Linked DNA regions of Homo sapiens: all the other regions are linked to region 1. The links come from fine-mapping of genetic effects on gene expression. A gene starts in region 1. Each other region holds a variant in brackets. All regions are shown on one strand. Distances are between the middles of the regions. Region 1 holds the start of FFAR4 (free fatty acid receptor 4). Region 2 overlaps CEP55 (centrosomal protein 55). Region 3 overlaps FFAR4 (free fatty acid receptor 4).

The links. PIP is the estimated chance that this variant, and not a neighbour inherited with it, causes the effect.
Region 2: its variant is the best candidate, but not a certain one, in a credible set for the expression of FFAR4 in blood mononuclear cells (TOPMed, PIP 0.54).
Region 3: its variant is the best candidate, but not a certain one, in a credible set for the expression of FFAR4 in whole blood (TOPMed, PIP 0.51).

The regions. Positions count from the first base shown.
Region 1 is chr10:93,564,702-93,569,053 of GRCh38, reverse strand. FFAR4 (free fatty acid receptor 4) reads right to left here and starts at 2,389. Exons shown (of 3, transcript NM_001195755.2): 1 at 1,767-2,389. The coding sequence starts at 2,333. RefSeq lists an enhancer at 2,149-2,987.
Region 2 is chr10:93,516,132-93,520,131 of GRCh38, reverse strand. CEP55 (centrosomal protein 55) reads right to left here. Exons shown (of 9, transcript NM_018131.5): 6 at 2,884-3,197; 7 at 1,184-1,255; 8 at 325-450. Among named protein-coding and RNA genes, the nearest start is that of CEP55, 22 kb to the right of the region's middle. The variant C/T (reference allele first, on the strand shown) is at 1,943.
Region 3 is chr10:93,586,165-93,590,516 of GRCh38, reverse strand. FFAR4 (free fatty acid receptor 4) reads right to left here. Exons shown (of 3, transcript NM_001195755.2): 3 at 445-3,297. The coding sequence ends at 2,908. Among named protein-coding and RNA genes, the nearest start is that of RBP4, 13 kb to the left of the region's middle. The variant A/G (reference allele first, on the strand shown) is at 2,092.

The DNA.
Region 1 (4,352 bases):
TTAGAGGCATCTGCGTGGCCCACCTTGATTCTCAGGTGTGTGTGGGCTAAGAACAAGCCTGTCCACTAAGCCAGAGCCCTTGGTCTGCCCATAAATGGCACCCACCAGCTCAGCTAATCCTGGCTTCTCTGGGCCCCACTTGAGTGGACATGGCCACAAGCTTGCATGTTATTTGATCAAGTGCCACAGGCTTGATGGGGCTCCTGCCTATTAGTCATTCAAGCTCATAAACAAACAAACACCCCACAATGTATTCCACACAAGCATTAGAAACAAGTGTTTAAGTTTGATTTATGTTTAAAAAAAAAAATCTCGCACAGGATACAGGAGGCAGACTCCATCCATCCTACCCCCAATAAAAGGGCTGTGTGAGAGACTGGTCTGGGAAAACCCCCAGAGAAGCTCCACCTCTCTGTCTCAGGCTCTGGAGGGTCACACAGTCAGGGGGTGTCCCTGGTGGGCTGTGTGCATCTCCATAACCAAGCCTTCCCCTGGTGACATGTCATTTCTCCCTCCCTACTCCCCTCTCTGACCACTTCGAAGGTCCCTCTTTGGGACCGTGATTCCTGTTTGTGCCACGATTACTCAGGGCGCCCCATATTCACTCCTAGGTGGAGAGGGAGCTTAAGGGTAGGGGGTTCCAGGCCGGAAAACCAGTGACCCCGGCAGGGAAGGGGAGGCCAAGAACCCAGCCACGGGCAGAAGCTCCTGGAGGCTGAGCCCCCAGCGCACAGACCTAAGTCCTTTCTCTATCTCTCTCCGCGAGGCATGGAGAACCAAACACACTGGGAAGACAGCCAGACGGCGGCCACTGTCCTCCACCGTGACTCCGCGTCTAGATTCCCTCTTCCGTGTGGATCCCGGCGCACGAACCCTGCAACCACCGGGCAAAGCGGCAAGAGAAAAAGACCCGAGCTCGGGATTCCGGACCGCGGGACTTGAGGGGAACAGAGCCAATGTCCTGCACTATCCGCAGAACCTTATTCCGATCATGGTCACTCCCACCCCTATGAGCTAATAATGACAACTATTGACCCGCTATGTAAAACAGAGCTCGTCGGTCCAGCCTCTGTAATCTGCACATTTCAGGCGCCCAGGACACCTCGAAGGTCTAGTGTAATCCTTCCGTTTTGCAGCTGAAAAAACTGAAGACCCCGGAAGGGAATTCTGTCACAAGTCCCCTAAAGACAGCATTGCATCTGGGGTCCCCGGGTCTCACATGCCTGTCCGCGCGCTTTCAAAGCAGGACCATAACCCAACCCTGGACAGGAGCCCAACTCCTCCTTGAATTACGGGTAAACTTCTGGAAGGAGCCCATCTCCTCCTCGAATTACGGATAAAATACTCTGGGCAAGTTATTATACACTTCGGTGTGCCTCTGGTTCTCATCTGTGAAATGGGTGTGATAATAACAGTATTGTAGCACCTGGCGAGGAATCATGATTCAATACAAAGTGTTTGGCCACCCTGCACCCCCAAAGTTCCGTCTCGCTCCTAAACTACTCGTTAATTAACCTCGCAACAGTCATTGCATTTTGCAAGAATTTGGGGGACTCCACTTACATCATTTAGGAGGGCGTGTGCACAGCGTTGTAGTGAGATTTAAGAGATTAAACTTCACAGCCATGGGCACAAGATTTGGCACAACGATTAAGTGCAATAAATGGCTATTGTTGTTCTTGATCATCCTCATCCCAGCTTCCGTCGGGGCCCCGCTTCCCAGCCTGCGCAGGACACCTGCCCGGCACACACAGAGGGGCGCTCACCTGGTCGGCGCCGGGGAGCCGTTGCGGGACGACTCGGAAGAAGACGCAGAGAGGCAGAGCGGCGACCGCCGAATAGCCCCAGATGAGCGCCAGCAGCACTGCCCGCGCCCGCCGCCCAGGACCCCGCACGCCGCGCTGCAGGTGCACGATGCACACCATGCGCTCCAGGCTGACCGCGGCCAGCGTGAGGATGGTGACGCTGCCGCTCAGGGTCATCACGTAGAAGAGCAGGTGGCAGGCAACGGGGCCCAGCAGCCAGGCCTCAGTCCAGCGCACGGCCAGCACCAGAGGGATAGCGCTGATGAAGAGCAGGTCCGCGCAGAAGAGGTTGAGTACCAGGCAGGCAGTCGCGCCGCGGCGTCGTCGGCGCGCCACCAGCACCAGGGCGCACACGTTGCCCAGCAGCGACACTGCAAAGATGAGCACCAGCACGGTTGTCTCCACCGCGGCCAGCACCAGCCGGTGGTCGCCCTTGACGTCGGAGAAGAAGGGAAAGCGGGTGCGGTTGGCTTGCTCCAGGCTGCGCAAGGGCGCGTCGCCCGCTGCCCGCGCGCATTCAGGGGACATTCCCGGCGCCTGGCGGCCCGCAGCGGTCTGAGAGAGTGCTCATCTGGGAGGCGACTGAGTGCCAAGGCGGGGAAAGAGGGAGGGAGGCGGTTGCGACATCTCGCCTCTGGCCCCCTCCCTTCTGAGGAGCGCCAGCACTGGGTGCAGGGAGCTGCACCCGGGGCGCGCGGGAACCAGGAAGTGCCCGGCAACACTGGCCGCGAACACCGCAGCTGGCCGGGGAGGTGGCGGCCAAGGCGGAAGCCTCGTGCCCTCTGGCCCTTTGAAAGTGTATCCAGAAGCCAGAAAACTCACTTAGCGAATTCCTCGAGCCCCCGCAGGGCCTGCCCAACCTCCTTTATTTTTCAGGGACACTGGATGTGCGAAGCCTTTTGTGAACGGATTTAGCTAAAATTGATTTAAAAGGGTCAGAGCTGGCCTTTGGAGATTATTTTGGCCTGTGTCGTTCAGGCTTTACTAAAGAAACTCCATGGGTCTGGAGGTAGATCCTAAAACAACTTGTAATGAGTCCATATTTTTTGTGGGGGAGAGAGGGAGTGGAGATCTTTTATCACTACTTAATAACAGGTCTTTAGGTGGATTATCTACTCCCTCTACCCCAGATTTTTAATCTATAAAATGGGAATAATAATACCCCATTAGGTTATTGTGAGGCTCACCTAGAGTTTTGCACACTTGGCACACAGTAATTACTCGTTAAATGTTATCAAATATTAGTTATTGTAACTAAAATGCATATACATTTTGCATTCTGAACAATGACATAAATGCTTTCTTATAAAAAGAGTGAGTCCTTCCAAAATTTTTAATAAACTTGCCATCCAAGGAAGACAGATATTTCAAGGCTGGCAGATTCACACACAAGCTATGAATGTGCCCCAGGTGCCACAGTTTGAGGAGCACTGGGCAATCCAGTCCCGTTAGAGATAAGGAAACTGAGGCCCAGCCAGAGTGACTTGTCTAAGCTGTCCTCTGGTTAGTAATGAAAGCCAGTCACCTGTCCCCGTCCCACACATTTCCATCACACCACTGCAGTCTCGTTTTCTGTAAATGAGGAAGCTGGAGATGGAAAAGTATGCCTGTGGCCTAAGATCCAGTGGCCACTTCCCCAACCAGCCACCCTCCTGCCACCCACACCTTCACCCCCTCTTCCCTCTGCCATATTACCAGGCCTCTCCCAGTTGCCCACTCTGTCTTCTAATTGTCTTTCTTAAGGTTGGGTCTTAAGAAATCTAAGCACTGACTGGGCACAGTGGCTCATGCTTGTAATCTCAGCACTTTGGGAGGCCAAGGCGGGTGGATCACTTGAGGTCGGGAGCTCCAGACCAGCCATGGCCAACGTGGTGAAACCCCGTCTCTACTAAAAATACAAAAATTAGCTGGGCATGGTGGCAGGTACCTGTAATCCCAGCTACTTGGAAGGCTGAGGCAGGAGAATTGCTTGAAACCGGGAGGTGGAGGTTGCGGTGAGCCGAGATCAGGCCACTGCGCTCCATCCTGGGCCACACAGCGAGACACCATCTTAAAAAGAAAGAAAGAAAGAAAGAAACCTGAGTACTTCAGGCTGGTTGCGCCAGAGTCTGAAGTACTGTCTGGGGAGGGGGTCCATTTGTGTGTCTGCTTTTCACGGTATCAAACAGGTCTGAGCTGATGATGTGACTTCTAACCTGAGAAGTAGATGCTCAGCTTGAACATTGACTAGGTTCAAGTTGAAAAACAGAACTGGTTTGCTTCCTGAAACAGTTGAAAAAGGGCAAAAAATTGAAATAAAGGGAACTCAGACAAATGGGGTTTTGGCAACTGTCTGATTAGGGTCAGGGGATATTAGTGTTTGTGTGAGGGAAAGGAAACTATAGGTATATGTATGTGTGTGTGTGTGTGAGAGAGAGAGAGAGAGAGAGAGAGAGAAAGTAAGAGGGAAAAGCACAGACAGAGACGGAGAGAGATTGATTACATCACAGGCTGATGTGATGAGATAGACACAGAGAGGTTTCCCTAGAATGTACAACCAGGGTGGGC
Region 2 (4,000 bases), 49 kb after region 1:
AATAGATAAACACAATTTCAGTTCAGGATTCTGTGACTACCCTCTATTCTACCCTTTTGACCCCAGCTCAGGCACTATTTAGTGCCTCCAGCATCACAGCAGCTGGGGTAGTTGGGGGAATGTTTCCAGATGTGATCATGTCCCTCTTTCATGTCCTCTGAATTGATGCTCAAAGGGCAGTTGCTTCAAATGAGGCAGAGGCTCTACCTACTGATTTGAGATACAGCTAGCTGTGTGTTAAGCTGTATCCTCCTAAGTTCGGAACTGATTTGGTATATAAATGGAAGACGAAGACAAATTTTAGTTTAATCATTCCAGACTCACCAAGGATTCCAACTGTGTTATTTGATTTCTTGCTTTTCGGAGCTCCTTAAGAATTACATGCAATTGATGCTGCACATGTTGACGGTCGAGTTTTTCATTTTCAAAGTCTAAAGTACATGCCTGCATCTGGAAAAGGCCCAGAACAAGACCATTACAGCTGATACAGACTGTCTAGTTCTCTTGACTGGATGCTCACATTTTTTTATTAGCACATGAAGAAAATATTTATTGTACCATCGTAGCAAGAATTCACCTAAGCACCATGAAATGTTAATAAACGAGGCAGCTTATGGCTGAGGATTTGGTTTATCCAAGGAGCAAAGCCAACGCTGAGGTATAGGTGAATGAAGAGCAGCTTAAGAAGTTGTTGATTAGAATTACTCCTCCCTATCCACCTTTTTTAAGGGGGAAGAAGGAGAAGGGAAAGAGATAGCTATTCCCTGGTTTGGAATATACTAAAAATCTCTGCTTTACACCATTTATAATACATTCTGAGACTAAATGGTGTCTCTCCAAGTTCTGCTTGAAGTTATAAGGTAGCCCTACTTAGGAGACATTGTTAGGCTAGGAGCTACAGCCACTGGGGAAGAGCAAAATTTGCCAAGGCCAACATCTACCTGTCAAGAAAACTGCCATCACACCTCAAGAATCTGTTTAGCCTAAGGTCAGCAACAGGAATAAGTGGCTAGCAGAGTCTCTTGAAATATCTTTTTTATTGAAGAAGAAAGACTTTTATTGAAGTCTTTTAAAGACACTTTTCACAACTTTCAAACAGTTCTCCATAGAACAGCATAAACATGAGGAAAAACTGCATTTTCTAACAGGCAGAATTGAATTTAGAAGCAACCCGAATGAGTACCTGTTGTTCCAACAGAGCTACCCTTGTTTGTTCTTCTTGCTGCTTTAGCAGAGATGTGTAAAGAAACTGGACCTGTAGGACATAAAGAGAACCAATGCTGTCACATCCAACCTTTTCCGGCTTGACCTGGGATGCACGGAAAGCTCACATCACAAGTCTCACATCTCTAACCAGGACAACACCTGCTAGTCAGGGGTGAATCATTCCAGCTGGCCATCTGATGGCTATCTATGCCAGCAGCTAAGCAGTATACCACCGCCCTTGCCGAGAGTTCCCTGAGGCACACAGACTGAATGCTGATAAACAGCACTGAACTCTGCAGCAGCCATGCCCCCTTTCCTGGAGGTTCTGACACTTCTGAGTAGGATAACATGGGTGGCAGTGCTGGGCCCTTAGCCAGAGCTGAAGCAAAATTTAATCAGCAGACTTAATCTCTCCCTAGTATCACTGCTCATACCTGTAGACAGAAGAAGTGTGAGTGGTAAAGACTAAGATGGCAGGCTGGACACAGTGGCTTGCACCTGTAATCCCAGCACTTTGGGAGGCCAAGGCAGGTGGATCACATGAGGTCAGGAGTTTGAGACCAGCCTGGCCAACATGGTGAAACCCCATCTCTACTAAAAATATAAAAATTGGCCAGCCGTGGTGGTGGGCACCTGTAATCCCAGCTACTCAGGAGGCTGAGGCACAAGAATCACTTGAAGACAGGAGGTGGAGGTTACAGTGAGCTGAGATTACGCCATTGCATTCCAGCCTGGG[C/T]GACAGAGCAAGACCCTGTCTCAGAAAAAAAAAAAGAAAAAAAAGACTAAGATGGCAAATGTTATAGATGGACTTGTTACTGTCCCATCACCAGCACCCTCAACTTTTGTAGGACTGTTAAAAATTATTATTAAAATAGTAGCAATAACTAGCATTTACCTCGCTTAGTTTACAAAGCACTTTTACCTTCTCTCAACTGACGCTCACCAAAGCCCTATATGGCAAGCAGAGGTTATTATTAATTTGACAAGGGAATAACCAGTGAGTAGTCAGAGAAGTTAGGTGATTTGCCTAAGGCCATATATCCTGGACTAGAGACTAGGCATGGATTCCAAATAATGTTCCTTCCATGATGCCAGGCTGCAAAGCAAAATCTAAATTAAAGAGTTCCATCAAAGTACTGTTCAATTCCAATAATCCTAACGTAGTAACTCCAACATTATTATGATACCATAGCATAAGGCTATGAGCATAACAAGAACATGGAAGATGCCATGTGAATTCACTTGAGCACATATCATCACCATTAAGATGCCAGTCTAGGAATCAGCCTCGATTCCTCTCATTACTTCACTTCTTCTTTTGGCTTCTCACATATACTGACCTCCTCCTCACTCAGAGCCTTTGTGTGTACAATTTCCTCCATTGAGAGGAAAAGTCACCCACCTCACTGGGTCCTCCTCATCATCAGGTCTTTGTCCAAATGCCATCTCCTCAGAGAGGCCTCCACTGGTCCCCAATTTCCCTTTGTCATGTCACCCTGTTGCATTTTCTTTAGTTTCCTTATTTATTGTTTATGGTCTGTTTCTGTTCTGGAATATAACTCCCATGAGGGGCAGGAATTTGTTTTGTCCCTAGCCAGTTCTCTAGTGGTCAAATAGTCCCTGACACTTAGAAAGTGTTCGGTGAACACTCTGAATTATGGATCTGGTTAAGTTTACCTGAGATAAGAGCTCTTCGGATCTCTTCTTCTCTTCTTCAAGTTTTCCCCTAGCAATATCATTCTCTTCCCTGAGTTTTTGTATCTTCTCTGTTTTATGCCTATCATCTTCCAGATGTTGCACATCTGCCCTTCTTTGTGAATACAACAGCTGATTTAAATTGTGAACTTCTTTTTGGGTTTCTTCATATTTTCTTCGAAATTCACTCAGTTCAAAACTCAGCTGAGTTATGGTTTGTCGTTCAACCTCAAGATCTTTTTTTGCACTTGCCAAGAGATCGTTGTAACATTTCTGCTTCTCTTCTTGAAGATAACCTATGACAAACAACATTACGGCACAACTCACTTTATAAAATAAATAATATTCCTGAAAAGAGAAACATCAAACATCTAAATGAATCACACTATTTCCTTAGTTTACAACATGAAAAGTCAAGAGATAGGGACTATGGTTGATATTTGATGAAATAAAAAACAAGTTCAGGTATACTATTTGAAGTTATAAAACTCACAAATAGAAGAACTAAAAACAGTAACATCTATTCTGTTGGGAGGGAAAGTCTCAAGAAGTTCAATCAACAAATAGGAACACAAGCTCATTATTTATATGTGGAGATAACTATCAAAATTAAAAATAGAAATATTAAGAGCAGTTGCCTGATGGGAGGAAGAAACGGGGATTGGGATGGGAAAGACAGGGCAAGGTCCTTCTTAACTATTACATTATTCTAACAAGTGCTTATATTGCTTTGATAAAACAGACACACAGAGAAAGAGAGAGAGAGAGAGAGAGAACTGTATTACCAAAGAAAAGAAATTAGACTTAGCCCATAACTAAAATCCTGCTTTTACATAAGCACATATTTTATAGAAGCAACTTAGTGCCATTAGGGCTGACAGCTTTGAAGTGCCTCCAGAGACATTTATAGTTTCTTTTTAGCATTAGCTTTGTTTTAAGTATTCAAATATGATTCTCCAATCTTATGAGTCTTGTTCCCCTTTCTTTAGACTTCTCTATAAAATTCAAGGCTTTGGTCCCCTCCAAACTGTCAGTCTTTTAAGGAGAGCATTGCATGGAGTTTCTCATTTTTCTTTTCTTAGCTTGTCATCTAGAATTG
Region 3 (4,352 bases), 21 kb before region 1:
GAATGTACTACCTAAGACTAAGCATGTTCAAAATGGCGGCTCCGTCTTCTCTTTTTGCCAGCTATGAGTGCAGTAAGGAGAAGACAAGATGGCCAAGTGGAAAGTCCATTTGCATAATCAGATTTGGGTGGGGTGGCCAGCCTTTCTCGTGCACTACGTAAACGTCACACCTGGTCAAACCAATCTGTGAGCCCTATGTAAATCAGACACCACCTCCTCAAGCCTGCCTATAAAATACGCTGTGGTCCACCACTTTTCCCTTTTCAGATGCCTCTGTCTCACGAGAGAGAGAGCTGCTCTCCTCTCTCCTTTCTTCTGCCTATTAAACATTCTGTTCCTTAACCCACCCACATATGTCCGTGTCCTTAATCCTCTTGGCGCAAGATGACAAACCCCGGTTATTTACCCCAGACAGCAATGCCGCTTCAATAAGATAGCCACACATCACTTCCAAAAACAGGTTTAATTGATCAAATCTATTAACTAAAGTGAGCAAAACATCTCTGTTCGTTTGTCTTCGAGCTTGTGATATCCATGAATCTGACTTCAGAAGCAAGCTGCTCCAGAAACTGCATAAGCAGTCACTACTGCTGGTGCTGATTTCCTCAGCAACAAAGATTTGTTGAACACCTACTATACACCAGGCCCCGTGCTGCTGTGCATTCCAGCCACTGGCCCAGCCTCCAAGTGGTGGAGTGACCCTGGGTTCGGTCTTTGGCTCTGGTTTCTCTCTATCTCTCCAAGGGATGTATTATAAAACCATAGGTCTATAAACACCATTTATATCTCCAAACAATGTGCATCTCCAGGCCCAAGCTCCACATCTCTGCATCCAACTGCCTATTCAATTTGGAAGTCTCACTGAGATTTCAAACTGATGAGCTCCAAATGAAACTCTTGGCTCCCCCCCCCCTAATCTTTGCCCAGGCCCCCCCATTTTTGTTGCCTGCTTCACCATCCAACCAATGACAGGCTAAAAAATCAGAGTATTCCCCTTGAGTTCTCCCTTTCCCTCACATTCTATCAATTCCATCCTTCCCATCAATAAATCATCTTTGTTTTACCTTCCCAAGGTATATTTACAAGTCATTTCTCACAATCCCTCCCTAATGCCACTCACCTCCAAGGTCCCATCCCCATGTCACACTTCAGCAGCTGCCCAACTGGTCTCCATTTTCACTCATGCTCCTCAGAGTCTATTCCCTGCCCAGCAGCCAGGGTAATCTTTGCACACATTCATCAGGTCACGTCAGCCTCCAGTTGCCAACCTCCAGGGGCTTGGAGAACAGAATAAACTCCTAGGCCCTATGTGATCTAACCCTGCAATTTCTCTGGCCTCAACTGACAGGCCCCAGCCGGGTACCCCTCATCTCAGCATTAAAGGCAGTGCCTAGTGCAGAGGAGGCTCCATCAATAGTCGGCTTACGCCACTCTCCCTTCAAGCGTGTCAGCCTCCTTGCACTAACATCTCTTCTGTGTCCCTTCCCCCATTCACACAGGTGGCCCTTTCTTGTCGCTTACCTTTTGATCCAATTTGTCACTCCTCAGAAAGGTCTCCTTAGGCCCCTCCCCATCTGATCTAAATTCCCATCACTACCATAGCCCCCGTCCCATTTTCTTCACAGTGCTTATTCGCTCTGTGATGCTATACTATTTATTGACTTGTAGCCAGGCGTGGCGGCTCACGCCTGTAATCCCAGCTACTTGGGAGGCTGAGGCGGGAGGATTGCTTGAGCCAAGGCATTTGAGGCTTCAGGGAGCCGTGATTGTGCCGTTGCACTCCAGCCTGGGCATTGGAGCAAGACCCTCATCTCAAATATATAGGTATCTGTATATAGATATAGTTTATTGACTTTTATTTAGTTTTTCTGCCCCTGACTCGAAGGTAAGTTCCCTGAGAGAGGGCCATGGCTGTCTGGTTCACCACTGTATTCCTAGCACAAAGGACACTGTCTGCCATGGCTGGTGCTTAAGAGGCATCTCTGCTGGATGCGTCAGGAGTAAACCACTCCTGAACTCACTCTCAAACATTTCAGAGCCATCCTACTTTCTCTCTCATTTCATGATGCCGATTCTCTTAAAAGGGTCCAT[A/G]GCATTTTTATAAATGAAAAAAAAAAAAAAGTAAGTCATCTTTAACTGTTCCTTAGAAATTCTTCAATTGCTCTTGACATCAACGAATGATCCTAAACCCTTGCGAGTCCAAGGTAGGGCACAGGGTGGCTGTGACCCTTCAGAGGAGAAATCTGCGTCCTGAATCGGTTCTAAGACTCACTTCAGAAACCACTATGGTGTGGCTTTATATGTAGGAGATGTGATTGCTGAACAGTCATAAATAAATATTTATTAAATTTGATCATATTACAAACACACTAAAAAAGTTCACATTTAAAAGGAACCCATAACAAATCTTTTTTTTTTTTTTTTTAAGATGGAGTTTCACTCTTGTTGCCCTGGTTGGAGTGCAATGGCACGATCTCGGCTCACTGCAACCTCTGCCTCCCAGGTTCAAGAGATTCTCCTGGTTCAGCCTCCCAAGTAGCTAGGATTACAGGTGCCCACCACCACTCCCAGCTAATTTTTTTTTTTATTTTTAGTAGAGACGGGGGTCTCACCATGTTGGTCAGGTTGGTCTCGAACTCCTGACCTCAGGTGATCCACCCACCTCAGCCTCCCAAACTGCTGGGATTACAGGCATGAACCACTGCACCTGGCCAACAAATCCTTTTATAAAGGGAAAATATTATGAAACTTGGTGATCACCCCTTAATTTACCGACGCTGTGGATGTCTATTTGCATAGGTTCATTTTCTTAAAGCAGGGTGCACTGATGGAGGGTACTGGAAATGAACTCTGTTTAAAAGCATGCCACAGCTCGCCAGGTGTGAGAAACTCGGCTATAAAGAAAAATTAGCCAGAAATAATCGACAAGTCATTTCTTTTGACAGATGTGTCTGTTAAAATGGCTCCCTTTTCTGGGAACCAGAAGCAGCAAAAAATTTTCTTCCACTCATTCCTGCACAGTGTCATGTTGTAGAGGATGGGGTTTAGGGCTGAATTAGCAAATGTGAAGGCCACCACCCAGAAGAAGAGGGACGGCCAGATGACCAGGTCTTGCTTGAAGTTCTGGATCAGGATGAGGAGGATGGTGATGATGATGGGGCTCCACATGATGAAGAAGGAGACCATGAGGAGGAAGAGGGTGCGGAAGAGCCGGAAGTCCTGCTGGGACACGCGGATCTGGTGGCTCTCCGAGTAGGCCAGGCTTACCGTGAGCCTCTTCCTTGATGCCTTTGTGATCTGTGGAAAACCAAAACAGGACTGGAGCCACAGGTGACCGAGGGTTGTTGGGGATTTTGAGTTAGGGGCCCAAGAGTTGGAATCTGCTATCCCCAAGGCACTGAAGCTGTGTGCCTCTGGGACTTTGTGTGCCCGAGCTTAGGATGTGCTGGAGAAATGGGACCCCGGCTGCACTCCTGAGAAATAAAGCAGAAAATCACCTACCTTCTAAACAGCGTTATGAGGGGAAGTGAAAAGCCTGAATTGGGTGGTCTACAAGAGGGACATCTTCCCTGTTATTTTTTTAAAAGAGATGTCTCTTTAATTGTTTGCAAGCACAATGTGCTTAGGGTTCAAACTCAAACAATGCTATACTGATGGGGAACAAATGAAGAACATCTGGCCTTCTCTACCCTCTATTTCCACCCTGGGAGGTGACTAACGTGAGTATTTTCCCATATGGCTTTCTGGAAATGCACCACTGCCACACACAATATTCCTGGCGTGGGATTGCAGGCATCTGCTCTTTTACCTGGTACACAGATGGGCCCACACCACGCACCACACTCCGGGCCTTGCTCCTTTTTCACCTAGCAGTATATCATGGTGCTCGGGCCATATCTGCACAGAGAAGGCACTTCATTCTTGTTATCTTCTGTAAATGGTGGTTGCAATTTATCTAGCCCCTATTGAGGAGTATTTTATTTCTTTGGCCTTGTTTGGGGAGGTAGCAGCTGAAATAGCAGTGTGCATACTCTTCCCCTCTCTCCCTATATTATTCCGTTCTCATGCTGCTATAAGGACATACCCAAGACTGGATAATTTATAAAGAAAAGAGGTTTAATTGACTCATAGTTCTGCGGGGCTGGGGAGGCCTCAGGAAACTTACAATCATGGCAGAAGGGGAAGAAAATGTTTCCTTTCTCCACACGGTGGCAGGAAGGAGAAGAATGAGAACCAAGCGAAGGGGGAGACCCTTATAAAACCATCAGATTTCATGAGAACTTACTATTACGAGAGTAGCCTGTGGGAAACCATCCCCATGATTCAATTACCTCCCACCGGGTTCCTCCCGT